Linked DNA regions of Homo sapiens: regions 2 and 3 are each linked to region 1. The links come from fine-mapping of genetic effects on gene expression. A gene starts in region 1. Each other region holds a variant in brackets. All regions are shown on one strand. Distances are from middle to middle.

Region 1 (10,236 bases):
AGCCTGGGTGTGCTTTGTGATTCCATAGATGAAGGTTTGTGGACAGAATCTCTTTTTCTCTGCAGCATTTTTGAGTGGAAGAGTAGGAGAGAAGGAGGGACCCCGAGGTGATGGACAACAATGACCCCATAAGCAAAGGGATATTTCTGGTGAGCCCAGCTGTTTTTCCTAGAAAACCAACCAAGAGAAGAACTGCAGTTGTACAGTTGGGAAATAGGTTTGCCTCCGGATGGAACTTTCAGGTTTTAAGAGAACATTCCCATGGATTTGTATAATGCTTTCTGGCTTGTGAAGCTCTTTCATAGTCAGCATCTTGCAAGACATGAAATGCAAGGGACATTATTCCACTTTATAAAGGAGGAAACTGAGGCACCAAGAGATTTACCCAGGGATTATGTGACCAAATGATTAGTTTCTCCTTTGGGGGGATTCTTTTAGAAAAAATAAGAGAGGAAGGCCCTTTTCCTGACCCTTAGTGCTAGGAATAGAGCAAAAAAAAAAATAAGTCCTGAGCCTCAGCCTTCACCTTCCATGCCTGGAGCCCAGTTGTCCACACTCCCCTACCCCACCCCTCCTCTGAAGCCTTCTGACCTTGCAAATGCCAGAGCCTTGCAAACTGTTCCAGGGACCTATTTAAGTAGGTTTGGGACTGCAGTTGCCTGGGCTTCACAGAGAATATTCTTCTCCCAGAGCAACACACTAGATGGATGGAGGAGGGGAGGGAGGGTTAGGGAAAGAGGACGAGGTATACAGGGACATAAGCTCTGCTCGTGGGAGGTTTAGTGAGAAAGGAGCGAAATCCTGCCTTGTTTGATTTGGAGCCTTAACAGGCTTGCTACTGTTTAAAGTACACAGGAAAGTGGGATTTGTGAAGGGAGGAGAGGGGAGGGGAGGGGAGGGAAGGGTGACGTCTTTATGAATGGTACTGAGAACCCCGGAGCAGATGCCCTGTTCCTGTGTCCTGGGCTGCCAGCCCCGTTGCCTGGGCTGAGACCCACCACTCTGGCATCCCGCAGTCTCTCTCTTCCATTCACAGGACTTGGCCCACACACTCCAGGCTGGCCTGTCTGGACCAATCCCTTTGTTCCTAACAATGTAGGGGTTAAGGGGAGGCTGCTCTGCTGCTGGGGTTGCCTGACAGCATCTGCTGGATGAAGGTGAGGTACCTGGTAGGGAGACAGAAGGGACCACATTCCTGCCTGTCTATAGTGGCAAGCCTGGGCTCAGGGCAAGTGAAAGATGACATGCATCTTAGAGCAGAGACCAATCAACTTGGTGGTGGCATCAGTGGTCTCAGCTTTGGGAGCCAGGTACAAACCGGGCAACAGCCAGTGCACCATCCAAACATTGCCCTCTGACACTGGCAAGCAGGAGCACCCTTGGCTCCCAAGCACAGGTCCAGGCACACATCCTCCTGAGCCCACCTCCCAGCCGACTCAAGGCACCGTAAATATATGCATGCACACACTCTCAGGCAGCATTCCCATGCTAAACACTGATAGCTTGCCACCCCCCGCCTCTAAAGGGAACAGACTTGATGCTGAAAGCCTGCCAAAGTGTGGCTGGCTTCCAGCACCAAAAATACCTCCTGTGATCCGAGGGGCTACTGTACTGGCATCTATTTGTGGGGCTGGAGCTGCTGCTGTGACATAAAGGACTTCCCCTAGGGATGGGCTAGTTGCCCATTTGGGCCTGTGCTCCCCAAAGTCTAAGAGCTTGCTTTCCAGGGCCAAGGCCTGCTCCCAGCCTGGAAAATGCAGGTGGCAGCATCTTAGCCAAACCTGCCTTCCACAGGAGAAATATTCATTCTTCACAGGAAACATTCTGTGGCATTCCAGAATGTTGGTGCCCTGTCCTCTCCCACTTCTCTCATTCTCTTGCTTAAGTAACCCATCTAGTTACTTAGCTTGCTTCTTTGACAAGCAAAGAAGAGGCCTGGGGCCTGGAACAAGAATGCAGAAGTGACAAATGACTTTCAAGGTGAGGTTCCAGGAATATCTTGACTAGGGAAGGTAGGTAGGTTGGGGTGAGTGGAGAACCCTGTTGAGTGTGCTATGATTTTCCAATGATGAGGATTTGGCATAAGATAAACATTTCCCCATTCATTCATTTGTTCATTCATTTGATAAATATTTGTTAAATATCGACAGCCTGCTCACAAATATGTTGCACTACATCTATCCTTCCAGATGGAAATGAGGACGAACTACAAGGCCCTGACAGAGGACTGGTCAGTCCCAAGGGGCTGTGGGCCTGATATCAGATGGACAGAATGAGGAAGAATATAGTGAAGGGCAGAAACATACAAGAAAACCAGAAACCTCAGAAAGAGATAGATCTGAGGTTATAGAATCTGTAGGGTTATTGCCATGCTTTCTTTAAAAATATGTGCCAAAGCAGTAATTATGGACTGTATATAGTTCCATTAAAGGAAGAAATTTAGTAAATTTGCTCTTCATAAATATTTGCGTAATAAATGAATGAATACCCAGATCAAAGGGAGAAGGTTAACGAGCAGATGTAAAGACTAGAGGTTCAGGTATACCGCTGTTGCCTCAGAGGATGTCAAATCTAAATACGAACCATGAACCCAAGGTTTTGGTTTTTTTTTAAATTCTCAGAGCATGTTATGGTAATTAGATGTTTAGCTAATAAGATCCATATTTGTTCTAGCCTATTAGGACTAAATATAACAACAATCTTTCCATTTTGATGATACTATTACTTCTTCCAACACGCTTACATATATCTATTTTAATTCCCCCAGTTGTCTGGAGAGTGAAGACAGAAATTCCCATCTTACAGATGGACAAACTGTGGCCTAGAGAAGTTAGAGGTACTTCATCCACTGTACCTCCCAGTAGATCAAGTTAGCGCTCTTTCCATTGCTATGCTGACCACAGGCTCTTCCATAGTCTCACAGGACTCAGATCTTAGACCCTGTTCAGTGGCAATGTGGAATCTGGATGGCGTCGTGCCACCCTGTCAGCCACAATGTGTCCTCCCGCCTGTGTTCCCTCTTTCTCTCCCTTTATTCAGGAAAGAGAGGGGAGGTGTGGGGATAAAAGATGGGGTGAGTGGAAGAGTCTGTTTCATTTTATGCTTCCTTGCTCTTCATTCTAAGATTTATTTCTGGACCACAGGAGTGGAGGGTGGCATATGAGAAAATTATTTCAATTGTATCATAATCTTCCCAAGGTGTGATTAAATTGAGGCATAGGGAAGAGAGGTGACCTCTTCCAGAGTCAGACACCACTTGATTTAGAACCAGAGGGCCCTAATTTTCAGCTTGGAGCTTTATCAATTAGATATCTCCAATCCTACCACGGCTGGTCTTAGGTGTAGCTGGCCAAACTCCATGAACAAATGGAGGAAGTGTTCCAAAATCTTCTAGCATCTTCTTCAAATCATCTTTTTTAATAAATTGTGGTTTAGATTCAGTCTACCCAGAGATAAAACGATCGACTAGTCTGTCTGCATGGGGAGACAAGATCTACTTATAAAAATAAATAAATAATAACACAGGGTAAATATGATAATTTATTGGTGTGTTACCAACAATGAATGCTAAAGAAGTTTGAAGGAAAGAACAGGTATGGATCAGGCAACACAGCTTAGACAGATTCTTTGTGGTCCCACAGGACAAAACTAGCAGTAGCCAGTGAAAGTTACAGGAACACAAATTTCAGCTAATTACAATGAAGAACTTTTGAAGAATTCGCTGATTTCTGCAGATGTTGGAGTAAAGCCTAGATCCCCCAGTCCTGTGTTGAATGTGCGATTGTTCGAGATGACTGGTTAGTCTAGATTTCCTTTTCTTCTTCCTCTCTCTCTCTCTTTTCTCCGGCTCCCTTTCTTCATCCTTCCCTCCCTTCGTTTCTTCTGCCGCTACTGCTCTAAGAATTTGGTGCAATTGCTTTTAGGTATTCGCAGTGATTTTTGTTGTTTTTTAGATTTATACCACTGAGGACTGTGGCCACGAGAGGGCAGTAGAGGAAGCTTATCAGAATACTTGGACAGGAGTAAACTCGTGTGCGCTCTAATCGCGAGCAGGGACTACGCAGATCCTGCGAACTCGCTGGGGTCCAGCTTGCAGGCCGCTTCCGGAAAGCCGTGTCTAGAGGCTGCGGAGTTACTGAGACTGTGTGGCGAGGAATCAGTGGCCTTGAGGGCACCGAGACATTGTCATCCAGAATCCCGAAACCTCTCACCTTAGGTTATTAAAATAAGTTATCTTATTGCCACCCCTCTGATTACCCTGCCAGAAAGATTCTCTGAATTGGATATAGAAAGCTCTTCTCCCGTCCCCAATGCCCCCATGCAAGTCGGGACTTACCAGATGCCCAGGATCCCTATCAGGGCTGGAAGTTTGAGATTCAATTCAGAGCAAGGTTCATCTTCTCATTGCAATAATAATAATAACAACAACTTCAAGCCTTATTTGACAGCTTGTTGGCCTTTTTCTTTTTTTAATTTACAAGAAGAGGAAATTTGCTCCCACAAATTCCAAGACTCTAGTCTCAACCCTACCAGACAAGCCCCGTTCCTCCCCACTCACCCCTCACTCAAATTACAGATGAAGAGGGAGGTGTGCAGGATGTGTGCGGTGACAGGTGATGCGAATGGGGGGGATTCCCTGTCCCTACTGCCCTCACCCACTCTTCCTGTGTTCTGAGCTCCCCCCTAACCCCAACGCTAGACCTTCTATTCCCCCGGGGGCCAAGCCAGCTGGGCTCGCAAGGCCCGACTCGAATTCCCGGGCCCTGGCAGCATTTTCCTTGCCCCCTTGGCTACTTAAGGTGGCCGATGGGTCCGGGCTGAGCTGGGCGCAGGACAGGCAGCCGAGCGGCCTCCGGATGCCAAACCTGCTTCTCCTTTGTTGACAGCTTGCGGAGGAGGAAGTCCGCGCGGGCGGGGGAGGGGGCAGGGTGCTGGCGGTGGCGGGCGGTGCCAGCAGCGGGCGCGGCCCCAGCCCGGGCGGACGCGGCCGGCGGGGAGGGGGTTAACGCGCGCGGCCTCTATGATAATGAGCTGCATGGTGAAATAGGGAGGCCGGCGCTCAGGGCTCCTCCGCCGCCGCCGCCGCCGCCGCCGCCGCCGCCACCGCGGGAGCCAGAGCTGCCGGGAGGAGCGGCATCCGCGCCAGACTGGAGCGGGAGGGCGGCGGAGGGCAGTTGCTGGGAATTTTTCAGCCGAGAGGGCGAGCGATCCGGAGAGAGACCCCGAGAGCTTGGGAGCGGTAGGGCGTGCGAGCGCCGCAGCCAGCGGAGCAAACCTCGAAATAGATCTGGAAAGCCAGGCTCCCGGAGGAAATGGGACTGTGAACGAACCGGAGAGCAAGAAGGGAAGGAAGCGCCGGGATTGCTGATGTCAGAGGAGCCCGGAAAGTCGCGCTGGAAAAATCTGAAGACAGCCGGGGCTCTGCTTCTTCCTCAGGAGAGACACCGCCGGCCGCCCCCACACGCCCCCTCGGCGCCTCCGGGTGCCCCCTGAGAGCCGGCGACAGCGCCCAGCCGGGCTGCTGCGGGGCGACGGAGGACTGAGGGGCGCGCGGAGCGGAGACCGAGGAGCGACTTCAGGAATACAGATAAGTGTCTGGTGGCTTGACGTGGATTTTAATGAATTTGGACTCCATGTGGATTTGGTCGTCTCCCTGATTCCGAGCTGCGGGCAGGGAGAGGGGCCTCGCGCCGCCCTCAGCAGCCGGCGGCGGCCGAGGTAGACCGAGCGGGGACGGAAGGACAGACCGACGTCGCCGAGCTGGGTAAGCGGCGGCTGGGCCGGGCGCTCGGAGTCGGCAGCGCCCTCCGCCCTCTCCCCACAGGCGCGCACACCCGTGGCGGCTTCTCCCGCGCCCGCCTCTTTGGGGTCCCGGCCCCAGAAGACCCGGCTTGGCCGCGGCGGGCGAGTCCCCGCGTGGGCTCGGCCACTTTCGCGGGCTGGAGCGCGGCGTGCGCGCGATCGCAGGCTCACTGGAGCCGCTGCCTCCCGCCGAGGGCTTCCCGGCCGGCAGCCCGCCGGCTTCCCGAATGCGGGCTGAGGGCGGCAGCAGCGCTCCGCGGCGCGCCTCCACCGCGCACCTGCCGGCGCTCTGCGGCTTTGGGGAGCTCGGGGCGGCAAGGCTGTCCTGAGAGCTGGAGCCCAAAGAGGGCCTCGGTGGCACCAGCGAGACAGCCCAAAGCCACACTGGCCAGCGATCGATTTGGGGGCGTTCACTCCAGTGCCGGGGTCCCTGGTGGCCGCCGGCTCTCCCTTCCGATCGGGGACTGGAGATCAGGGGAATGGGAAAACATCATTTGCGCGGGTTCCATAAGGCTCAGGGAGAGATTCCTAGGCACTGAATGGGTCTAAGTGTTTCATCTCCCGGGGCTCCCTTTGCGGTGTATCGCCCAGCAGGGGTCCAGCCCCTTAGTTTGAGCACCACAGGAGTGCTGGGGGTTGAAATGGGAGTTTGCTTAGGGTCCCAGAGGCTCCTTATGAACCATTTGAGAATGTTTCCTTCCATGTGCTCTTTCTTGCCCCACCCCACAAGTGAGGTAGGGATCCTAGAAAATTCTAGCCCTTTTTATCCATCCCACAGGTAGTCTCTATAATGCCAATCATGGTCTAGATGCCCAGAGAGTCACCAGAAACTACCATTTTAGATCCCCGAAAAAAGTCCACCTGTTTGGAATGACCCTTGCCCTAGTGGGAGCTACCTACTCAAACTCAGCTCTGCTCAGGAGGGATAGAAATAATGGTGGGGAGGAAGTTGGATAAAAGATTTGGGGCTCTAGGTCAGTAAGGGTCTAGAAATGAGAGCCCCATGAAGTGGGCAATGGAAATCTGAACAGGTCCCCTGTAGGAATCTTAGAGTGACAGTGGCACACCAGTAGAAAGTGCACAAGGGACATGAAGGCAGCATCAGTTTGAGGGGACTGGGACTGCCAGTCATAGCTTGAGGCAGTCACTTGGGGGCCCATCAGTTTGGAAGAACCCACAGAAATTTGGGGGCACATTCATTTCCTTCCATTCACGCGCACAGTGGACAAGGCTTATGAGCGGCAGGCCAAGATGAGTATCTTGGCTGGCCTGGGCTGGAGGCTTTGAGAGCAGGAGTCAGGTTTAGCTCTCCCCTCTCCCCACACAATAGCAGTCTCCCTCCTTTGCTGGGCTTCTTTCCCAGATCTTGAAACTTCACTCTTCCCTCTGGGTTGGCTTTGGATTCTGGGGCCTTCTACTGATTGACAGAGCCCCAGGAAGAGATAACCTTGGCTGGAGGAATTCAGCTATTCCTAACTGAAATGCACAACTTTTATGCAATAACCCCAGAAAGCTCCCAGAGTTGCTTGCAGCCCTCTCCCCTCTGACCTCCAGGCAAGAAAAGAGAAGAATTCATTAACTTCCCTCTCTCTTCACGGAGCACCATTTGAACTAATTACCTGGGATCTCTCCTTGGTGGTGGCCTGGAGGCTGAAGGGGCAGTGAAGAGAAAGGGTAGGGAACCAAGGAAACAGTGGAATCTGTCATAGCGAGGTTGTTTTTCATTCCCCTTCTTCCACCTGGCATCACCACCAACCCCTCCTCATTCCAGAACTTGCCCCTGCTGCCACCAACCAGCATTACCTAAAGGAGCTATTTCCCTCCACTCCGCAGCCGATCGTCTTCAGGGACCTGCTGATAAAGGGAGGGCAATGCAGATTACCCTCTCTGCTCCCTCACTGTCCTCAGCAAATTGCATTAGGATGGGGGCAAACTGGCTTGCAAAGCAGTTAAATGGAAATGACATTTGGAGCGATGTGCAGGGAAGATGCTGAGGAGCAGCAGTGGTAAAGTACCAGGAGATCTCTATCCAGGGACCATGAGTCTGCCAAGGAAATCCCAGCTGGTCCTTCTTTTTGGCAGGGCATAAGGACAGGGGTCCCTCAAAGCCTGGAGCAGGACAGGGGGGCTGGCTAGCTTTTCAGCCCAAGTCTAAATGAAGAGTATGGCAGTGTCTTATGTCCATCGCCCAAAACCATGTCATTACAAGGTTGGTGGCCCCCCTTTCAGAGCTAGTCTGAATACCTATCCCTGTCTTCAGAGCACCAGGGAACATTCACCCTGCAACTCTCTTGACCATCAAAAGCTGCAGATGCGGTGAATGTAAAAGTTCCTTCACCATCTGTTTTACTGAAGTCTGCACTTAAAATGAGGTTAAAAAGAAAGCCCTCAAAGAACAGCTACCTGTTTCCTAGGTCCCTTTCCCATTTACCAATACTTCTGCTTACTCAGCTAATCTTTATTTCATGGGCAGGTTACAAGAAAACATAGGAACAGGAGGGGAAACCAGTGACATGGTTAAATATACAAGGCAGCAGCTGACAGCAGCCTAAACTCACCACTTTAGGTGCTATGAAATATTTATGGTGCTGGAGTTGTCACTGTTTGGGGGTTTTATAGTTTCTATCCTACCTCATTTTCTATGATTGCCTCCCTAAGATATAGGGTTTGGTGTGGGGGAGGCAATTCCTGTCTCCAGCAGCACCTCCCCACCACCACCAGCTGTCTCCCTGCATTGCCACACAGCTGTCTCCACACACACGAACTGAGGCACAATATACTTCTGTCCATCATGGCAAATGGAGAGGCAAGGAGCGCCTAGCCAAGCCCCCACCCCCCACCCCCATTCTGATCATAAAGAGACTGGAGCATTGTGTTACAGTCTGTTAACTAGAAATAATTCAGGACTGACTGTCCATAGGGAAACTGGTAGAAACAGGCTTTGAGGTGCTGGGAGTTTTACAGCTCGTGTGCGTTCCCCCCTCAGCCCCAATCACCACCGCCCCACCCAGGGGCAGTCTGTTATCAATTCATTATATGTGAATATTCTATTTCTACCCTTCACATATGCTCAGTTCAAACAATGATGAATGGAACCAGTTCCCTGAACAGTTTTTTCACTTCGTTACAAAGATTTCATGCCTGATTAGAGTAAATGAGGGGTGGGTGTGCATCCACTTCTTTTTCGGTCATTTCTAAAGGTGAGCCCTATGGAGACAGAGAGAAAGGCAGTTCTTCCCAGGGTCAAACAGCTGGTCTCAAGGCACGAGGGAGGGATGGCTGGTAAGAAGAGGATATCCCCGTCCTCCTGGGCTTAGCCCTCAGGCTCTCCTGGGCCTCATTCCCTGGCATTTGGGCATATGGAACCTCTTTATCTAGCTCCACACTGCTCCATCTGGAATTGGAGGGCATAAATAGAGGCGAGAAAGTTCTTTGTTGGGGAGCAGGGTCCTTGCGGGGTAAGAGTGTAAGGGGAGAGGAGGAAGGAAGGGCACAGAGCTGAAAGAAATGGCTGAGGCCTGAGCAGTGCAAAAGTTCTCTGCTTCTACAGTTGGTTAACCATTAACCGCCTTCCCTGCTCTGGTTCTGTCTCTCTCTTGGGTGAAAGAATATCTCTGGGAAACTCAGAGGACCAGCAGGTGTTCCCCCATACCCCCCTTCACCCCAGCTTAACATTTGCTGTGTCTCCACTGTCCTGCCACAGCCCCAGGCTCAGCCACTGACCCCCACTCACCTCTTCCTCACCTTCTTCCCCTACCCCAGCATACTCTTCCCACGCACTGCCAGTTGTCCCTTTACCCAGGCATTGCCAGTTGTTTGCAGGGCAGGGCGTGTGTCAGAGACTGGGAAGCAGGCACAGAGGTGGGGAGAATCTATTGAAGGGAGCAGCCGGCTTCACACAGGATTCGGAGCAGGAGCTCTGAGCTCAGGTTATAGACAGCTCTATAACCACTAGGATTTTCCTAGTGCTTCTCACTGTGGATCTGGCTTGTGGGTGGCTGTTTTGGCCGTTTGAAGTGAGTCCATGTGGTCCAAGGCCTGACCAAGGCATTCCTAACAAGTCAGACCTGGAATCCTGAACATCAAAGAAAACCAGCAGGTGGATGGAAGATGTAGATCAAGATGCAGGAGCAAAGGCACACATGGAAAGACAGAAGTCAAGATGTGGGCACAGGCACAGATAAATGGAGAGAGGGAGGAAGACAGCAAGGGAAGATAAAGACAGAGAGATTAACAGTGTGAATGGGGGTGGACAGAGCTCAGAGTGAACACAAAGAGAAAAGTGGGAAAGAGAGCCTTGCAGGCAGAAGGGGGTTTTCTGAATCTTCACTGGCCAGGGAGGCTCTGGGCTGAACTGAGAAGCCGAAGTAGCAGGTTATCTCCACTAGAGGGGACTCTTGAAAGCCAGGCTTGGCCCAAAACAGTGGCTTTTGT
Region 2 (10,236 bases), 250 kb before region 1:
ATAATTTCCTTTCTTAATCCACTTAAAATATGTGTCCTTCAGAATCAGAATGCTGCTCTCCCCATCTGGAGATGTCATATAACTAGATGCCTAAATGGATTTTCAGATGCACTAATTACTTTACAGCTTTCTCTGCCAGAGCTGCTGCAGTCACTGGCTCATCAGAGCCGTGGCTGTTGTTGCTCACTGGCACTGCTGTCCTGATGGCCTGGCTATGCTTGTTCCTTTTGGCTGTGGAACGGCTCTTCCCAGACAAGCCATTTATCTAACTCCTGGTATCCACAGACTTTAAGTCATCAGCTTTGGATCATTTCCAATGAACTACCAATATCCATCCTACTCTCCAGGAGAAAAAAAAACCTACCCTGTGATGGTTATTATTAAAAATTAGTAATAGATGTGTAAGCTTTAAATGAGTACATTTGTTCCTTGTCTTTTAACAAACATTATATTTTACATGAAAGTTAAATTGGAGTACTCCCAGTTACGTAGTCAACCCTGAATACACATGGATTCAGCTACCTGCCTTCATTTCATTTCTTTCTTTCTTTTTGAGATGGGCTGTCACTCCATCACCCAGGCTGGAGTGCAGTAGGGTGATCTCTGCCATTGCAACCTACACCTCCCAGATTCAGGTGATTCTCCTGCTTCAGCCTCCCGAGTAGCTGGGATCACAGGCACCCACCACAATGCCTGGCTAAATTTTGTATTTTTAGTAGAGATGGGGTTTGACTATGTTGGCCAGGCTGATCTCAAACTCCTGACCTTAAGATATCCACCTGCCTTGGCCTCCCAAAGTGCTGGGATTATAGGCATGAGCCACCGCACCCGGCTTCTGCCTTCATTTCGAGAGTAAGTTTATAATGGCCTGAATGTTTGCTTGGGCTTCTGCTCAAACCTTATCTGCAATCCCTGTGGCACTGCATCTTCCTGTGTTTAAACAGTAGATTTGAAATAAACAAGGATGGCACTACGACTGAAAAAGCAAAGAAAGAGAATTTGAGTCATTTCAGATTTGTCATTCTATGTGACCACTTGGAGTATTTATTTGTGTTTGATATTTAAAACAGTGAGTCAGAGTATAAACTGGGAGGTCTAATATTTTTGTTTGATAAGTGCCAATTTTAGTTTGTGCATAAAATGCCATGCTAAATCTGAACGATATCTTTAAAATTGAAATTTATTCATTTTGTTTTAAAACTAAAGTATGAATTAAGAAAAAAGGGTTTTATTAAAATTTATTAATTAGTTATTAGACAATGATGTACATTAAATATTATATCTGATTTTTATCAAATGATCCAAATTCAAACTATTAGGTATATATAAAACTGTAGAATAAATAGTTGTGATTTTTTTCTCGTTCTAGTAGGAACATGGAGGAACTTGAAACCATGACTGTATTGGCTCATAATTATTATGAATTTTGTAAAGAGATTTGAAGTGGGAACCCGACATAATGACATTGACTCAGTGAAGTTCAACAAAGATAATTATGAAACAAAACAAAACCAGAGGAAGTGACGCAACATCTAGATCTACTTTGAACTATATAGTGCCTTCAAAATCACATATAGCTTCATTTCATAATTGTCACTGAAAATAATTTTGTTGTACAGAGGAGGGAGGTGTTAAAAAATTATGTGTTCTAACTGTCAAATATGCTAGAGATTTCACCAAATTACTGTTGCTCTAGCATTTCCCTGCTTACTGGGAAAATGAGTGTCTTTTGTGTTTATTAAACATTCATGTTTCTTATTTTACAAAATGTTTGCTAAATCTTGTGCCTATTTTTCTATTGGGATTTATGATCAATCTGTACAAGTTCTTTATATATTCTTAGTATTAACCCTTTTATCCTCAAACATGAGTCTGTTCTTTATGTCCCCGAATTACCCTATCATGTATCAATATTTCGTGAGATTCTATAAGGCTATCTTTTTGTTCATGATTTTAAAATTTATTGTATTGTGGTTAAAGAACTTGGATTCTATGAGAGAAACTCCTTGAGATTCTGGATTTCATATTTCTTGTTAAATAGATTCTTTAGTTTTTATGCAATGCCCTTAGTTATTCTTAATAATATTTTTATTCCAGCCTATTTTGTCTTTTACTAATATTGTTAACACCAGGACTTCTGCTTCCCACCCAGATGGGGTAAGCAATGACTGGATTTACCTTCCTTCCTAAAAACAAACAAGCAAACAAAAAAGCAAATAATTTTCAAGTCACTAGATAGCAGATTATGAAGAATAATTTGAGGGATGGGAAACAAATGCAGTGAGCAATTGGTCTAGCTTAGGTCTTGATAGAGGTTCCAGGATGTGGAGCATGGAGGAAGAACTCAGGTAAAGTTTGGCAGACTCCCTGAATAAACAGAGCTCAAACTCAGCTGAAAACAGAGCTCAAAGTCAGCTGAGAACCAGGTGGCTGGGGTGCACAGGAGAGAATACTGAAAAGAAGGGAACTACAGAAAAGAACTCTGGCAATTGTAGAGGGTGCCGCTCGAGTATTCAGCTGAAGACTAAGTGCAAGCATGTGAGAAAAACCCTGAGGCTGAAGAAAGAGCCACTCAGAAAGGATTAGAAGGAACAGTAACCAGTGCTCACATAGGTCAAAGAATAGTTCCTTTCCCACCAGCCAAACTGGAAGGTTTTATGATTCATGGGTCTTTGGGTAAACTATTCCGAGGAATCTTTCCTCAGTGGTGGAGAATCCTTAGTGCTGCTCCACATACCACTCTGGTCCCTTTTAACAAAGATTAAAAGCAAAACCCAAGAGAGCCGGACTGTTTCAAAGTAACTTAACTGTATTCAAGAACAAAGCTCAAGACAATTTAAAAGAGTACAACATATCTAAGAACCAACAAAGTAAATGTGTAGTACCTGGCATCAGAAAAAAAAAAAAAAAGAAAAAGAAAATTATTTCATTTTTTTTCCAAGATGGCATTAGAGGCTTTTAACATGCCTCAGCCACTTGGAAATAGCAAGGTAGTGCATAAAAATTGACTCTGTGAGCTTTATTTCAAAATGGAAATGGGACACCCCAGATCCTGGGGAAGAGAACACCAGCAAAAAGCCCCCGTGAAGACATTCAGCTGATAAGAGTGAGTGCAGCCCCAGAACACGGGAGAGGCAGAGAGCTACCCTCCATGACTCACCTGTCCACTGGGGATCCAAGCCACCCAAGCCAGGGAGAAAACTTTGTTTCTCCCCAAGACCTAGAGCTAACTTGGGGACAGGCTTGGAGATCCTCAGAGGAAAAGACACTAGGAAAAGCTGCAGACATTTTCCCAGACTGGGAGCAGGAGCAGTTTTAATCTGGGCACACACAAAGTCATCATTTGGTAACGCAGCAGTGTCGCCATATAGACATTTTAATCTGAAGCCAGAGATCGGGAACATGTGCTTTGGAGCAGAGTAGGAGCCTCCATAGACATAGCTATGGAAAGCGCCTCAGCAGTAGGTGCTGGAATTGTGCCCCCGCACCCCATGTTACAAACCTGGGCCCAGTTTCTCCCGGGAAACGAGACTTGCAGCCAGGGCCAGCTTGGTGACCTGGAACCTGTCTGCATGTGTCCCTGCAGGGTGCTGAGGGAGAATACCTTCAGCAGTCACCGAGCACCCAGAGGTGTGCCTACATGTGGAGCTGGGAAGCCTCTTTGGCTCCAAGATCTTGGCCTGCTGCCCTGAGATCTTGGTGCGATGAGGCCCTATCTGCTCCACACTCAGGCAGATCTCCAGGCATTTGGGGCACCTACTCGCCTGGATGAGCAACCTGAGCTGCCCCACCGTTCCTACACAGAGATCCTGGTGCAGGGGGGCTCCTTCCACTCCATGCCTGGCAGATCACCAGGCATTTGGAGCACCCACTCAGTTGGACCAGCAGCCACTCCACCCTTCCTGTGCAGAGATTATGATGTAGCAGGGGCCTCTCTGCTCCATACCCATGCAGCTCTCCAGGCAGTCAAAGCACCCACTCACCTGGATTAGCAGCCTGAGCCACCGTATACGTTGTGGTACAGCAGGGCCCTCTCTGCCCATGCCTAGGCATGTCTCCAGGCATTCAGAGTAACAGCTCACTTGGATTAGCAGCCTGAAACACCTCACCCATCCTGTGCAGAAACCTTGGTACAGCAGGGCCTTCCATACTTCATGCCCTGGCAAATCTCTAGGTATCTGAAGCACCCAGTCTCCTGAATTAGCAGTTTAGGCCACACCCCCTCCCCATGCAGAGTACTTAGGGACAAGGAGGTTTCCCAGCTCCACATCTAGACACACGTCTGGGTGTTTGGTGGCTGTTCATTATATTCTCCCTCAGCACTGGTGCTTGTGCCATACCTGGTCCCTCCCCTTGCATTTTTGCCTCACCTGTACCCCTCTCCCCACTCCAGAGCTGAGCAGGGAACTCAGACCACTGTGTACTTCACAGATCAGCTCACTGCCTGAGGCAGCAGAGAGTTTCTCCCAGTAAACATGCATCAAGTATATACCCAGCCATATCTGCCACAGCTGGCTCTTACCCATAAGCACCATCTACTGGCTTGTAGGTTAGCCCAATATAAAACCTGCTGACAGAAGTGCATACAGCTATAAAAGCAAAACCAAGAGACCCTACCCAGCATTCTCTAAAGCCACACCCCCTGGTGGGGAGAAGGAAAAGGAAAATTTTAAAATAATAATAATATTACAGGGAAAAAATGAAAAAGAAAAAATCTTATCCACATAAAAATGGTTATAAAAGTTAGAATTGCCAGCATCTCCAAATGAGAAGAAACCGGCACAAGAATTCTGGCACTATGAAAAATCTGAATGTAGTAACACCACCAAAAGATCACACTAGTTTTCCAGCAATAGTCCCTAACAAAATGGAAACTCAGAAATGACAGACAAAGAATTCAAAGCATGGATTGCAAGGAAGCTCAATGAGATCCAGGACAAGACTGAAAATCAACACACAAAAAAACTTTTAAAGCAATCCAGGAAATGGAAGAAGAGATAAACATCTTTAAAAAAATAAATCAGAGCTTCTGGAATTAAAAAACTTACTTAAGCAATTTCAAAACACAATTGACAGCTTTATCAATAGACTATACCAAGCAGAAGAAATAATTTCAAAGCTTGAAAAACAGCCTTTTAAACTAACCAAGCCAGACAAGAATTTTTTTAAAAAAAGAAATTTAAAAAGCACACAAAGTCTTTGAGAAATATGGGATTATCTTTGAGACATATGGGATTATGTAAAATGACTAAACCAATGAATTATTGGCATTCCTGAGAGAGGAGAAAAAGTAAACAAACTAGAAAATATATTTGAGGGAATAATTCAAGAAAAGTTCTCTAATCTTGATAGAGCAGTAGACATCCAGATACAAGAAATCCAGAGAACATCTGGATTATACAGGTGTCCTGGAGATATTATACAAAATGAACACCCCCAAAGCATATAGTCACCAGACTGTCCAACATCAATGCTAAAGAAAAAATCTTAAAGGCAGCTAGAGAAAAAGGTCAGATCACGTACAAAGGGAACCCCATCAGGCTAACAGTAGACTTCTCAGCAGAAACCTTACAAGCCAGGAGAGATTGGGGGCCTATTTTCAGCATTCTCAAAGAAAAGAAATTCCAACCATGAATTTCATTTCCCACCAAACTAAGCTTCATAAGCTAAGGAAAAATAAAATACTTTCTAGATAATCAAGTGCTAAGGGAATTCATTACCACTAGACAAGACTTACAAGAGATCCTTAATGGAGTTCCAAACATGGAAATAAAAACACAATGCCTGATACCACAAAAACACATTAAAGTACATGGCCCACAGACCCTATGACGCAACCACACACTAGAAACTGCAAAGAAGCCAGCTAAGTTCACAATATGATCAAACCCTCACAATCTCAATATTAACCTTAAATGTAAATTGTCTAAATGCCCCACTTCAAAGGCATAAAATGGCAACTTGGCTAGGAAAAAAAAAAAAAAGACAAGACCCATCTATCTTTCTTGAAGAGACCCATCTCACTCACAATGACACCCACAAGCTCAAAGTAAAGCCTTTGATTTGTTGGAGAAAGATCTATCAACAAACAGAAAATTAAAAAGAGTGGGGTAATTATTCTCATATTAGATAAAACAGACTTTAAACTAACAACAGTAAAAAAGGACAAAGGGGAACATTACA[C/T]AATGATAACAAGTTCAGTTCAACAAGAAGGCTTAATTATTCTAAATATAAACACACCCAACATTAGAATACCCAGATTAATAATAAAACAAGTACTTCTAGGCCTACAAAAGACTTGAACAGTTACACAATAATAGTGGGGGATTTTAATGCCCTACTGACAGCATTAGACAAATTATTAACATAGAAAATTAACAAAGACATTTTGGACTTAAATTCAACACATGAGCAATAGGACCTAATAGATATCTGCAGGATACTCCACCCATCAACCAAAGAATATACATTCTTATCTGCACACAGAACATAGTCTAAGATAGACCACATGTATGGCCATAAAGCAAGTTTCAATAAGTTCAAAAAAATTGAAATCATACCAACTATACTCTCAAACCACAGTGGAATACAAATAGAAATAAATATCAAGAAGATCTCTCAAAACAACACAATTAGACGGAAATTAAATAAATTAAGGCAGAAACAAAAAAATTACTTGAAATATTAAAAACAGATATACAACATACCAAAATCTCTGAGATGCAGCAGAAGCAGTGTTAAGAGGAAAGTTCATAACATTGAATGCCTATATCAGAAAGTTAGAAAGATTTCAAATTAATGGTCTAATGTCACACCTAGAAACGACAAGAAAAGAAGCTAGAGAAGCTAGAAAAACAATACCAAACTAACTTCAAAGTTAGCAGAAGAAAAGAAATAATTTAAATTGGAGCAGAACTGAAAAAAATTCAGACCCAAAATACCATATGAAGAATCACTGAAACCAGAAGTTGGTTATTCGAAAAGACAAACAAATTCAGTAGACTGCTAGCTACATTAAAAAACAACACAAAAAAGAGAATATGCAAATAAGCAGAATCAGAAATGGCAAAGGTGGCATTACAACCAACCCCACAGAAATATAAATGATCCTCAGAGACTATGATGAACACCTCTAGGCATACATACTAGAAAATCTAGAGGAAATGGATAAACTCCTGGAAACACACAACATCCCAAGATTGACTCAGGAAGAAATCAAAATCCTGAACACACCAATATTGAGTTCTAAAATTGAATCAGTAATAATAATAATGATAATAATAATAAAAACCTATCAATCAAACAAGCCACAGATGGATTCACAGCTGAATTGTACCACTACGGGCCAATATCCCTGATAAATATAGACACAAAAATCCTCAGCAAAATATTAGCAAAATGAATCCAGCAGTACATCAAAAAGTTAATTCACCACAGTCAAGTCGGCTTCATTTCTAGGACACAAGGTTGGTTCAACACAGGCAAATCGATAAGTGTGATTCACCACATAAGCAGCATGTAAAACAAAAATGTATGATCATTTCAATAGACATGGAGAAAGCTTTTGATAAAATCCAACATCCCTTTATGATAGAAATCTTCAAAAAACTAAGCACTGAAGGAACATACCTCAAAATAATAAGGCTCATTTATGACAAACCCACAGCCAACATCATACTGAGCTGGCAAAAGCTGAAAACATTTTCCTTAAGAACAAGAATAAGACAAGGATGCCTACTCTCACCACTCCTATTCAACAGAGTACTGGAAGTCCTTGCTAGAGCTATCAGGCAAGAGAAAGAAATAAAAGGCATCCAAATGGGAAAAAGGAGGCAAATTATCTCTCTTCACTGATGATATGATTCTATACCAAAAATCCCTAAAGACTCTACCAAAAAGCTCCTAGAACTGATAAATGACTTCAGTAAAGTTTCAGGATATAAAATCAATGTACAGAAATCAGTAGCATTTCTATACACCAGTAACATTCAAACTGAGGGCCAAACCAATAACACAATCCCATTTACAATAGCTGCAGAAAAATGAAGTATCTAGGAATACATCTAACCAAGAAGGTAAAAGATCTCTATAAGGAGAACTATAAAACATGACTAAAAAAAATCATAGATGATACAAACAAATGAAAAAAAAATATTCCATGCTCATAGTTTGGAAGAATCAATATCATTAAAATGGCCATACTGCCCAAAGCAATCTACAGATTCATTGTTATTTCTACCAAAGTACCAATGTCATTTTTTACAGAATTATGGAAAAATATTATAAAATTTATATGGAGTAAAAAAAAAAAGCCGGAATAGCCAAAACAATTCCAAGCAAAAAGAACAAAGCTAGAGGCATCTCATTACCTGACTTCAACTAATACTATAACGCTACGGTAACCAAAACAGCATGGTACTAGTACAAAAACATAGACGCATAGATCCATGGAACAGAGTAGAGACCCTAGAAATAAAGCCACACTTCTATAGTCATCTGATTTTTGACAAAGTAAACAGAAATGAGCAATGAGGAAAGGATTCCCTATTCAATAAATAGTACTGAGATACCTGTTCAATCATATCCAGAAGAATGAAGATAGGTGCCAACTTTGAACCATATGCAAAAATTAACTCAACATGTTTAAAATTTTAAAATACAACAGATACTGGTGAGGCTGTGGAGAAAAGGAAATGATTATACACTGTTGCTGGGAATGTAGATTCATTCTGCCACTGTGGAAAGCAGTTTGGAGATTTCTCAAAGAACTTTTAAGAGCTACCATTCAACCCAGCAATAACATTACTTGGTATATAAATATAGGAAAATAAATTGTTCTACCAAAAAGGCACATGCACTCATATGTTCATTGTGGCGCTATTCACAATAGCAAAGACATGGAATCAAGCTAGGTGCCCACTTCTTTTCTTTTTCTAATCCCATGGTAGATTAGATAAAGAATCCACCATGGGATTAGATAAAGAAAAGAAGTTCATATATGCCATAGAATTCTACACAGCCATAAAAAAAGAATGAAATAATTTCCTTTGCAGTAACATGGATGCAGCTGGAGGCCATTATCCTAAGCGAATTAATACAGGAACAGAAAACCGAATACCACATGTTCTCACTTATAAGTGGGAGCTAAGCATTGGGCAAACGTATACATAAAATTGGGAACAACAGGCATGGGGAACTGATAGAGGCAGAAGGGAGGCAGTGGACAAGGGCTCAGAAACTACTTATTGGGTACTCTTCTCACTACCTGGATGATGGGATCATTTGAACTCCAAACCTCAGCATCGTACAATATACTCATGGTGCATGCTGTAAGTAACCTGCACAGGTACCCCTTGAAACTCAAAAAAAAAGTTGAAATTATTTTTTAAAATAACAAAATTCAAGGCATGACAAGAAGTAGGAAAATGCAATTCAAAATGAGGATACCAATTGGTCAATAAAAACAAACTGAGAATAGCACACAAGTGTTAGAATTAGCAGAAAAGTCACTAAAACAATTATTATAACCATTTTATATTTTCACAAAGTTAAGTTAATGGATAGAATGTACATTATTCAGGTGATGGTACCCTGGAAGGTCTGACTTCGCCACTATGTATCTTTGCATATAACAAAATTGTGCAACTACCTCATAAAGTTATACAAAAAATAAATAAATAAACTATACCTAACAAAAAGTTAAGTAGAGTCATGGAAGATGAAAAAGATACACATTGAACTTCTATAAATGAAAACTACAATGTGTGAAATAAAGAATACACTGCATGTAATTAATGATAGACTAGAATTGCAGAAAATAATAGTGAATTTTAAAACATAGCAACAGAAACTATCCAAAATAAAATACAAAGAGAAAAGAAAAGGAAACAATGAACAAAGCATCAAATAACTAATTCAACCATTATATGCCTAATATATGTAATTGGAGTTTCTAAGGAAGAAGAGAGATGAGAGAACATATTTTTCAAATATCCTTTGAAGAAATAATGGCAAAAAAGTTCCAAATCTGAAAAAAACACTATGAACCCACAGATCTAAGAAGCTCAGCAAACCCCAAGCACAAAATACATGAAGAAAATTACACCAAAGCACATTATAATTAAAGTTTTTTAAAACCAATGTTAAAAAAAAAATCTTAAAAGTATCCACAGGGGAAAAAATTATATATAGGGAAGGAAAGAAAGATGACAACAAATGTCTTATCATTAACAAGGC
Region 3 (10,236 bases), 85 kb after region 1:
TCCCCTGTAGCCTGCAGGGCTAAAGGTGTCCCCTAACCAAATGCTCTCTAATGGGGCACACACATGCCAGCCCCTTCCTGCTAAGGTCAATTTCCATGCTAAATTGTTCATTATTGCCATGCGGCAACACTGTATGGAAGCGTCAGAACCCACAAGTGTGGGCAGAGTGGACAGGTGAACACATGAATACACCTGCCTTCCTGTGCTCCATGGGGGGAAGCGGCCCCTTTGTGGGGGTGGTGATGAGAAGCCCCCCACATGCTGACATCCAAGAGTGGGAGAAGGGCATCTGGCCCAGAGGCAGAGATCATCAATTCATTTAGCAAGAATTTATGGAGCATCGACTTGCCAGGCACTGTGTTCAGCACTGGGGACACCAAACTCAACAAAACAAAGGATGGTTGGGAGAAAGGACACCAGCAAGTTGTTGCACAAATAACTGCTTATTACATGGCTGGCCAGTGTTGTAGAGATGTCCAAAGTTCAATAAGCAGCATGGGAACCTGTAACTAGGGAACCAGAACTACTGGGAGAAAAGGGATCAGGAAAAGCTTCCTGGGGAAGCAATATTTAAGCTGAATTGTAAATGCTTTGTCAGCCTCTCTGTCTCATCCCTAATATGCACAGTTTAGAGCTCCCTACCCCATGCCCCTTGGGGCCACCCATCCACATTTCCCACCAGCCATCCCAGGCAAAGGTGAGCTCTCTAACTCCCATACTGCTCCCTCTCTCTCATTTCCCACATTGAGTTTGCTGCCAAATCTTGTCTGTTCATCTTTTCCCTCACCTGCCCTCCTTTCCACCTCCCTCCCCCAGCCCAGGCTGAGACTTTTATTATCTATTCTTGAACTTGTGCTGGCTCCTGCCCTGCCTTCTCTAAGTTAGCTTTCACATTTTTTATATCATTTAATGGCTCTCCGCAGCTTGTAGGTAGGGTATAGCTGAGTCTCTTGAGCAAGGTCTTGGCATCCCTCCACCAGAAACAGTTTATCCCTCCCTACATCCCTTCCCCATGCCACTTCTGCCACACTCACACCCTGTTCTTCCAGCTTTGCCAATCCCTCCCTCTTCCCTAAGTGCCCCTGTGCCTTGGCTCAAGGGTCAGTCCATGCCTATGTCTTGACTCAAGCTGTCCCTGCCATGCCTCCCTCTCTCTGCCTGATGAAGTGCCCTGTCCTTTCAGGTTTAAGTTATATCACACCTCCTCAGTGAAGCCTTCCTGATTTGCCCCTCTATAATCCCACATTTCTTATCATTGGTTACAGCACTTAGCAGAGTCAGCCTTGTATGTGAGTTGCTTGTATTTCTTTGTTAGAGGCAGTGTGCACAGTGGTGAATGTCACAGACTTTGGAGTGGGATTATTTGAGCTCAAAACCTGGCTCTGTTCTTACTAGGAGTATGACTTTGGGCAAGCTACTTAACCTCTCAATGCCTTACTTTCTTCATCAGGCATACAGAGATAATAACAGGACCTACCTCATAGAGCTATTGTAGGCATTTAATGTCTTCATACAGGTAAAGCACACGGAACAGTACCTGTTTGTTATTATGTTTATTTCATAGTTTATCTGCCTTCCTTGCCTGATTGTGAACTCCTGGAGATCAAGAAGCATGCAGGATTCATCTTTGTACTCCCCTAAAAAGATTCTGCTTCTCCCCATAGTCTCCTCAAAGAAAGAAGCACAAAGGGCCAAAGCTAGAAAGGACCTCAGGGCTCACCTTGAGTAAATGCTAATTTTATATATCAGTCAACTGAGGCCCAATAAACTGAAGGACTTGCCCAAATCACACAGCTAGAAACAGCTCTGGAAACCTAGCAGTCAGGAATGTAATACCCAGGTCTAGCTCACATCTCTCCTGCTCCAATACAAATGCTATTTCTACCTCCTCTTTGGAGAAGAACAGATGGTCAGTGTCATCTCCAGTCTTCCCTTGGCATATCACTGAGTCACATTTTCCAATCACCCTCAGCCTTCTGCCCTTCCTGCTAATGGATGTCAGCTGTCCTGAGCCCTTTGGCCTTTCCTAATGAGGCAGGTTTTTCTACCTTCCCATCAGGGTGCTGTGCTTCTACACAGGGTGCTGCGTGTTCTTTAAATAGAGAGCTCTAAGGAGCTACAAGCAGGATTTACGCTTGGCCTCAATGGAGACTCCAGGGCGAAGAAGGGGAGAGATCAAGTTGAGGCACACACAGGCTGGCTCCTGCTCCCCCTCTCCTCCCAGCACCTACCCTGCCAGGCACCCAGGCCACATTCAGACTCCTCCTTTTACTGTGGATTCAATACAATCTGGAAAATGCATTAAACATGACACAGAGTAGTTGACGCGTAATTAATAAAGTACAGATTTTGGCTGGAAGCCTCAACTTAAAATAGCACCATGACTGTGGAGAAAAAGGGAGGGCAGGGGAGAGAGGCTGGAGATGAATGTGATGAGAACCAAGACCGTTATCTCTGAGAGTAACAGGACCACTTCTCCCTCCAAAGCACCCTGAAATTAAGGAGGAGGAAGATAACAATTTTTTTATTATTATTAATGGGATGAAGCTGAGGCTCAGAGAGGCTAAATGTCCTGCCCAAGGACACTCGTGCACCATAGGACAGAGCCTTGGCCACTCGTCCGTGCCCTCAGGTGGTCAGAGTCCACCATTTGCGTATTAGTAATCTACTCTCTCGTGAAGTTGCACATTTCAGGACTGTTTTTAATTTGAGAGATGTTTTAATGGCATTTTGAGACAGACTGTTCCCTAGCTGATTCTCCAGAGAGGCTGGAGGGAGCTTCATATTTTCTTTGAAGAAGCAAAAAATAAAATAAAGCCTTTTCTTCTGCAAGCACATTCAGAGAGCCCTTTGCTGCAGTTCACCAGCCTTCTGGTGTGAGGGGAGAGGTGAGAAGGGGATTGAGGAAGGAGAGGGAGAGGGTAGAAAAGGCTTCTGTGGTTCATTCAAATGCCTGGGCCTCAGGGGCATTCTCTATTGAAGCTGGATCCCTGCTGCTTTCTGCCAGAGATTCCAGACTGGTTTTCTGAAGCAAAATGTAAATTTCAGCCCAACTAATCAACCCTGATAAGGCAACATCACCTCCAGCCTGCCAGTCATTAACAAAGGATCCAAGGCAGACCTGGGCGACTAGGAGCAGCAGCTCTGGGTGGAGGAGGCTGAGATGGAATATTCTGAAAACTCCAGAAGCAAATCACCAGAAAGCAGAATTTTGATAACAAAGGGGAAACTGAGGCAGGAAATCCTGATGTGATTCCCTCATGCCACTTGCAGTAATTCCTTCCTGTCTCTACAAGGTAGAAATGAACTTGATCTTTTTAAAATAGCAGTGGAGAGATGGGGACGTGTAAAAGTCTATTATAGTACAAGGCCCAGTGGGCCCTCTCTGAGAATAATTAATCTATGAATTATGTGACATAGGAAAACAGCACTGGTTTCTGTGGCATGATCTGTGTTGCATTTGTTTCTGTGCCCCAGAGCATGAATGCTATCCTTAGCACATAGCAGGTCCTCAAAAATGTTTATGGCAAGATTCAGGAGACCAAAACCAAATCTGTGCTCTAAACCTCTCAGAGCCTTGGTATATCTGTCTGCAGATTGGGGATAAAGAAGGCTTGTCTTTCTTCCAGCCTGTTGGGCAGATTGAATGAGATGACGTTCCTGTGTGGAAGCCACGCAACAATGAGATGCTGTTGAGTATCAGATATCTGGCTGCCGTGTTCTACCTAGTTCTGTGTTCCTCCCTCCCATGCCTGGGTCAGGGCCAGCTAGACTGATCTGGCAATCAGAGGGACACAAGGAGTTTCTCCTCCACCCCGTGGCTCTCCTTACAAGCACACTGTTCTCAAATACCCAGAACTTGAACCCAGAACCTTATACAGCTACTCTTCCCAGGGGGAAATAGTTCAGAGCTCCAGAGCCAGAGGCCCAGCTGTCAACTAAATTCCCCGCAATAACCCTTTCTACTTCTGGGCGGGGGGGGTTGTACTAATGAAGGGAAGAAGGGACAGAGAAAAAACATGCTATCTATCTCTGGTAGCAGAAGGAGTGAGGGAGGCTCTGGTGGGAGAGACGGGTTGGGTTTCACTGGCATTCCATAGCAGGCCTTCCGAGTGCAGCTGAATCAGAGCTGAGGGAGCTGCCGAGACCAGAGGAGCCTTACAGTCGACTGTGGGCAAACCTGATAGCCCATCTGGAATCCATCCATGGCCTGGCTCCCTCCCCCATGTCCTGAGCTCACTGCAGAAGCCATGGTGGAGGAGCAGGGCCAGGCACCTCAACCAGCAGGCTGTAAAATCCCCCAAGTGCCAGCCCACCAGCCCCTGCTGTCCCTCCCTGGCTCTGGAAGCACAGGTTCACCCTCCCACTCACCAGCCCCTGGCTTCAGTTCCTGCCCCTTCCTCTCTGAGAACCAGAGTGAATAATCTTACGGCTTTGAGTAGTACAGAGATGGCGAAGCAGCATCAGAGATCCGGCCCTCCTGAGGTTATTTAGAGGGCCTGAGAATGCCAGCTCCAGTCCATGTCAGCAAGAATTGCAAGTGGGCGTCACGGTAGCACCAGACTTTCAGATCTTCACAGAGGAGTTGACCAGCCCTTGGCTGTCAGAGTCCTAAATCCCCTTGGATGGCTGGTGTCCCCAGTCTCCTCTGACTCCAACATCCTAAATGCCCAGACTCTCAAGACAGAAAGAGCACGAGCTGGAGGACGTGGGATTGTGCAAAGAGCAGGGGCAGCCGTCTTCCTGGAGCCTGGTACTTTAGCATAGGCTCCCCAGCTGTTTGCTTGGTGATTTTGAGG[G/A]AGTTGTGTGCTTTCACCAGGACTCAGTTCCTCTTCTATGGGAAGGTACTTCCCCCCACAGGATGATCATGAAGATCAAAAAAGAAAAATTAGGTGATAGAAACAAACAAAATGTCATTACCTTCAGCATACCCTCAGCCTAGCAGATGATAATGCAGTGCCTGTTAGATGGACAAAGGACAACATTGGCTGGGAGAATCAATGCCCAGCTCTGAGGAGCCCTCCCCAGAGCCTCTAGGGAAGGGGTTTCCCCATTTTCCTGGCATTTCTCCCACTCCCTAGGTTGATTGGAGTCATGGTGGTTTTGTTGTCACCTGCCATATTTCAGTAACCTTTGACCATCGCCCAGCTAGCCTGTGGGGGTAGATGCCTATGCGGCTCTCCCTCCCTCTCCCATGCAGAGAAGCACAGTCCTCCCTGGGAGCAGGAAGGAATGTGCTTCCTGGGAATACTCCTTGCCCCATGTGCTGGAGATAGAGCCCACTGCAGGGCTCCACCACAGGGAGGATCTTGAAAGCCAAGAAAAGCGACCCATTTGTTGGAGAACCCGACAGGGTCAGAGGCAGCTCAGACCACCTGTAGGGAATCAGGCCCTTTTGCCCACCACAAATCTCTTTTAACAACAAACTTTGAGAACAGCCTGTTTTCCCAGCGCAGCTTCCTGCATAGTGTTTGCCTAATCTTTCTGTCCAAAATCCCTCTCCAAACAGGAGGTTTCCTGCCCAGCACTGGCAATCAGAGAGCTAATTATGTGGGATTAGAGATGGAGTTGGGGGGTGTTCCTTTTAATTACAGGAAAAAATTAGTCCAACTGATGTCGGCAAGGCCACTGGGATTAGAATGAAAGTCCAGGTTTGGGCACAGGTCAGTTTGGGAGGTGGTAGAGCCCCCATGCTCTGGGGCTGGTGTCTTCTGCCCTTAACTGCCTCTGGAGTCTGGGGCAGACAGGGGGAAATGCAGGTCTCTGAGGAGCTTCTCTTTTGGGAATCTTGGAGAGGTCATGTGTATGTATGAGAGAGGAGACAGACACAGGGAGAAAGAAGTAGAGACAGCACAGAGAAAGAAACAATGTATATGGAGAGATCTGGGGATTGATGGGAGAGAGACAAGGAAGGGAAGGAGAAAGAGAGACGCAGGTGGGTGTTAAGAGGAGATTTTGAGTAAAAACAGACAGAGGGACACAGGTTTAGAGACCACCATTTCTCTCCCCACACTCACTGTGGACTAGTATTTATGTGACTGTCTCTTTCAACGGGGAAGAAGAGAAAGGCATCAGAAGCTGTACCTAGGCTTCTGTCCTCCCTCCTTCCTACCTTCCTTCTTTCCCACTTCCCACTCTCTTTCCCCTGGTGTCCAGCACACTGGCCTGGTTTCACAGCACACGGTGCCAGTGAGGAATGCTTTGGCCTGGCTGGGGACAAGGATGGTGTGGAAAGCTTGGACTCCGCTGGGCTCCTAGTGATCTTGAGTCTCCTCTGTGGCCTGAAGATGGGGCTTTCTGCCAAACAGTCTTGCCTTCTCTCCTATGAGAAGAATCTCTTGGCCAGAAAAGCATTCATTCATTAATTTATTCATTCATTCTTCCATTTTACAAATAATTACAGAGCTTTATTATGGGCCAGACCCATAGGAGTTTCTCCTCCACCCCCGTGGCTCTCCTTACAAGCACACTGTTCTCAAATACCCAGAACTTGAACCCGGAACCTTACACAGCTACTCTTCCCAGGAGTCTATGAATTTTTATTAGTGCAGTGGAATACAAATCAACCACTGGCTTTCCATTTTGAGTGGTATCTCCCCACCTCACCCCTGTCATCCAGCCCCTCACTTACAACATCCTGAGAGTAGCCCAGACCCTCACTCAGAAACATCCACTGGCCAACTCTTCCTTAAAGAGGCAAATGATATAAGCACAGAGTAAAAAGACCTGAGAATATTTTGAGGCAATGTACAACAGGTACAGATTCATAGGGTACAAAGAAAAGACCTGAGCATAATTATTTGTGTGTATTCATATCTCACTTCTTTCCAAAGAAGGAATTAAGATGACTTACAATAAAAGATTTGGCCAACATGGAATGATAACTGTCTTAGAACTAGAAAAGCCAAGCCATAAAGGGAGTAGAAACACATATGTTACCAAGAAGGTCAACATAGGCACCAGGATCCAGCATGAGATTTGGCCTGAGTGTCCCAGCAGCCAAGTCATAAAGGGAAATGAAATGAGCAAGAAATCTTTACACTTTGAGAGAAGGCAGTGTCCCTACTTTTCAGGACATTTCCCAGACATTACATTCTGTAAATTATTTATCATGTGAGACCTGTACAGACACCAGGACAAGAGTTTGACATCCAAATCAGATGCTTCTTTTATATGGCAATTTCTTGTATTAGCTCCTGACAAAGTGCCAAGGCTGTGACTTCCATGCAACAAGCAGCATTCGATGTGTTATTCTTATGGAGTAACAAATGCTGAAAAATAAGTATATGAGGCTGTGAGGGAAAAGGAAGCTTGCTGGTTTGGCTTTTGTGGTCCAAGTTTACGGCTTTCTGGAGCTCTCACTTGATTCAAGTATAGAATGCAATTTTTAAGCACCCTGTCATGCTTGGCACTCTGCTAAAAGTTGAATAAAATGAACTATATAGATTCAACTTCTACATCTGGGAATTTATAATTTATGTTGGCACTTAGATGAGGCTCAGACAGCAGAATAAGAGCATTAAAATGACAGACAGTAAGATGTTAACATTATACACAAGACAAAGGTGAGTGTATTTTAGGGAAGTAAATGGATTAATAAAAGATTTTATAATCAAACTGACTCGTTTGCATGCCTTTCTACTACTGGCTGGCTGTGTGGCCTAAGGCAGTCACTTAACCTCTCTGAGCCTCAGTTTCTTCATCAGTGAAATGGGTTTTGGGTTTCATCAGTGAAATGGGTTTTGTAAATGATTTGCATGTAAATCATTTACATAAGATGCCTGGCGTCATGTCCAATTCGTAGCATGTGCTCAATAGTATAGCTATGCTCACATTCTAGGATTGTTAAATAGGGATGAGTTCCTAGTGGGGTGAGAGGAGCAAGAGTCTTCCGATCCACTCCAGGGAAGCTGAAGACTCATTACTTCTTTCGATGAATGCCCCCAAAGCCGTTCGCTTCCTAATAGTCAGGATGTCTAAAGCTGAACTGGAAATATTCCAACATAGGTCATCTCAGGAACCCGAGAAACCTCTCCCTTTGATCTGTTTATATCACAACTTGACTGGGAAATCCATAACCCTCCTTTCTTTCACCCTGCTTTCCCCACTTAGGAAATGCCCAGGACTTGGATTTTGCTGCCCCAGGGTCATTATTTAGGCCATCCTCCCTCACCAGCCACATAGGCTCTCCTTTCCTTAAGCCTCAGGTACTCCTTCACTGCGCTTCATGGGGAGGTCCTGGTGTCAGGCAGAATGAAGGGCATTAACTCCCACATTTCCTGGAGGGATCCCTTTGTCCAGATTGGTTGTCAGCCAGACCCAGGCAGCCTCCAGGCTATAGCAAGAGGGGGTGAAGATGGGAAGCCATGTGATGCTCCCCTGCACACCCCACCACACCCCTGTGACAGCTGGAGCCCAGCATCCCATGAGCCAGAGCTCAGCATCCCATGAGCCAGAGCTGGGCAGGGAGGGTGGGACAAGTCCAGTGCAGCCGGGTGTTGGGCCAGGAGTCAGGTAGGCCCCAGGCGGGTCCTCCAGGCACATCCCCTTGGTCCTGCCCTCCCCATCCTCACCTCCGCTTCTTTGCAGTTTCTCTGGTACTTTCCAACTTACTGCCAAATTGTCAAAAGCTATGAGAGGCAAAGTGCTGTTCAGTTAATGACTCCAGTCCCTGGAGAGGTGGAGCACTCTTTTAAGAGAAAAAAATCCTAGAAGAGTGGGGGTGTGGGAGGGGCAGAATGAGGGATGCTTTAGTACTTTACACAAAAGCCAGGCTATAGCTCCTTTCAGCACTTTTTAAGGAGCATATTAGCAGTGGGTAGGTTTGCCCCGAGCTGCCTTCTCTCTGTGGGTGAAGGACTGGAGCCTCCCCCTTGCTTTTCTCTATTTCACAAAGTGAAAAGGGTCTGAGACAGAAGGCTGCCATCCCTTCGGCCCAGTGACTGCGGCCCTCTGTGTCCCCAGCACCGGTCCTGTGGAGACCCTAGTCAAACGACTCCTCCTTGCTCTGAGAGAGGCTGCCTTCAAAAGCAGGCTGGAACGGCCACTATGCAAGGGGTTCGCGCTCCATGCACCTGCTAACCCTCTGCTGCCTCCCGCTCCTCCTCCCCGCAGTCCTGCTCCCTTGGAAAGGACAGAGGAGGAGGTACTAATTTCCCCCATGTCCCCCTGAAGAATTTCCTCCCAGCCCAATTTTCCTCCTCAGTCTGGTCCCACCCAAGTCTATGAATCAGAGATAAATCAATCCAAAATCCCTCTTTCATGCTTTCCTTTCCAGTTTCCCAAATGCTTTCACATTCCTTATCTCATTTGTTCCCGCCGCTGCCTTGTCATGCTGGCATGTTGTGTTACCAGTTTTGTAGATGAGGAAAGTGAGAATTAACTCCCTTGGCTGAGTGCCCCTGCGTGGCCTCCACCCCAGTGAGCTAGACATCAGCCTTCGCTGGACAATCAATGTCTATTGGAAGGGAAGATGGAAATGCAGAGCTTGGAAGATCTAGAAAGGAAATCAAAAAAAATCTATGAAGAGACTGCCCAAGGCGAGACTTGTACAATCTCTCACTTCCATCGTCTCTTGCTGTGATCTGACTTGGAGAGGGGAGAATTTTTTTAAAGTTATTTTTGTTTTGAGTTGGCCCTAGTGTAGCTCCCTTGGTCTTAGTCCTTGGTCATCCATGCACATCCTCTGCAGCCACTGCCACTTTTTGGGTGCGATGATGTGGCTGTCCAGGCCCAACAGCACATGAATCCTAGGTAGTGCCAACTTCTCAGGGGCCAGGAGGACTTGGGGAGTCCTAAGGAGAAGAATAGAGGCTGCACTTTGCCTACCGTTGAGCCCACTGGATATTCTGAGAATGCTCAGAGAAAAGGCAGGACAAAGTTCCTTCCTCACAGGGCCAAGCCCTGCTTCTCTTCCTCCCACTCTGCGGTGAGATCCGGGCACCTGCTGTACTGTACCCAGCACCAGCAGAGTCTTCACGCTGGCACTCTGCCCAGCAGCTGTGGGGCGTTAGCACAAAAAGGGGGTGGGCATTGAGGACAAGCAGGTGTCCAGCCAAAGAGAACAAGGTGACCGGGGAGGGTCTTGGAGCAGTGATGGCAGGGAGCAAAGAGAGTCCATGGAAGAACAAGCAGATCGAGACAATCCTTACTCACCACCCCACCCCCACCCCACCTTGATTAGAATGATCTGGCCCCAGAAGAATAGCAATGAATTAATTAGGGGCCTGTTTTCAT

Evidence for each region. PIP is the estimated chance that this variant, and not a neighbour inherited with it, causes the effect.
Region 2: its variant is the best candidate, but not a certain one, in a credible set for the expression of PLXNA2 in whole blood (TOPMed, PIP 0.77).
Region 3: its variant is the best candidate, but not a certain one, in a credible set for the expression of PLXNA2 in whole blood (TOPMed, PIP 0.58).

Annotation. Positions count from the first base shown.
Region 1 is chr1:208,239,171-208,249,406 of GRCh38, reverse strand. PLXNA2 (plexin A2) reads left to right here and starts at 5,023. Exons shown (of 32, transcript NM_025179.4): 1 at 5,023-5,764. RefSeq lists a silencer at 4,906-4,965 and enhancers at 5,484-5,983, 5,984-6,485.
Region 2 is chr1:208,490,489-208,500,724 of GRCh38, reverse strand. No RefSeq gene overlaps it. Among named protein-coding and RNA genes, the nearest start is that of LINC01735, 120 kb to the left of the region's middle. The variant C/T (reference allele first, on the strand shown) is at 6,184.
Region 3 is chr1:208,153,960-208,164,195 of GRCh38, reverse strand. The region is part of intron 3 of PLXNA2 (plexin A2); the gene reads left to right. Among named protein-coding and RNA genes, the nearest start is that of PLXNA2, 85 kb to the left of the region's middle. RefSeq lists enhancers at 3,780-4,290, 4,291-4,803. The variant G/A (reference allele first, on the strand shown) is at 4,800.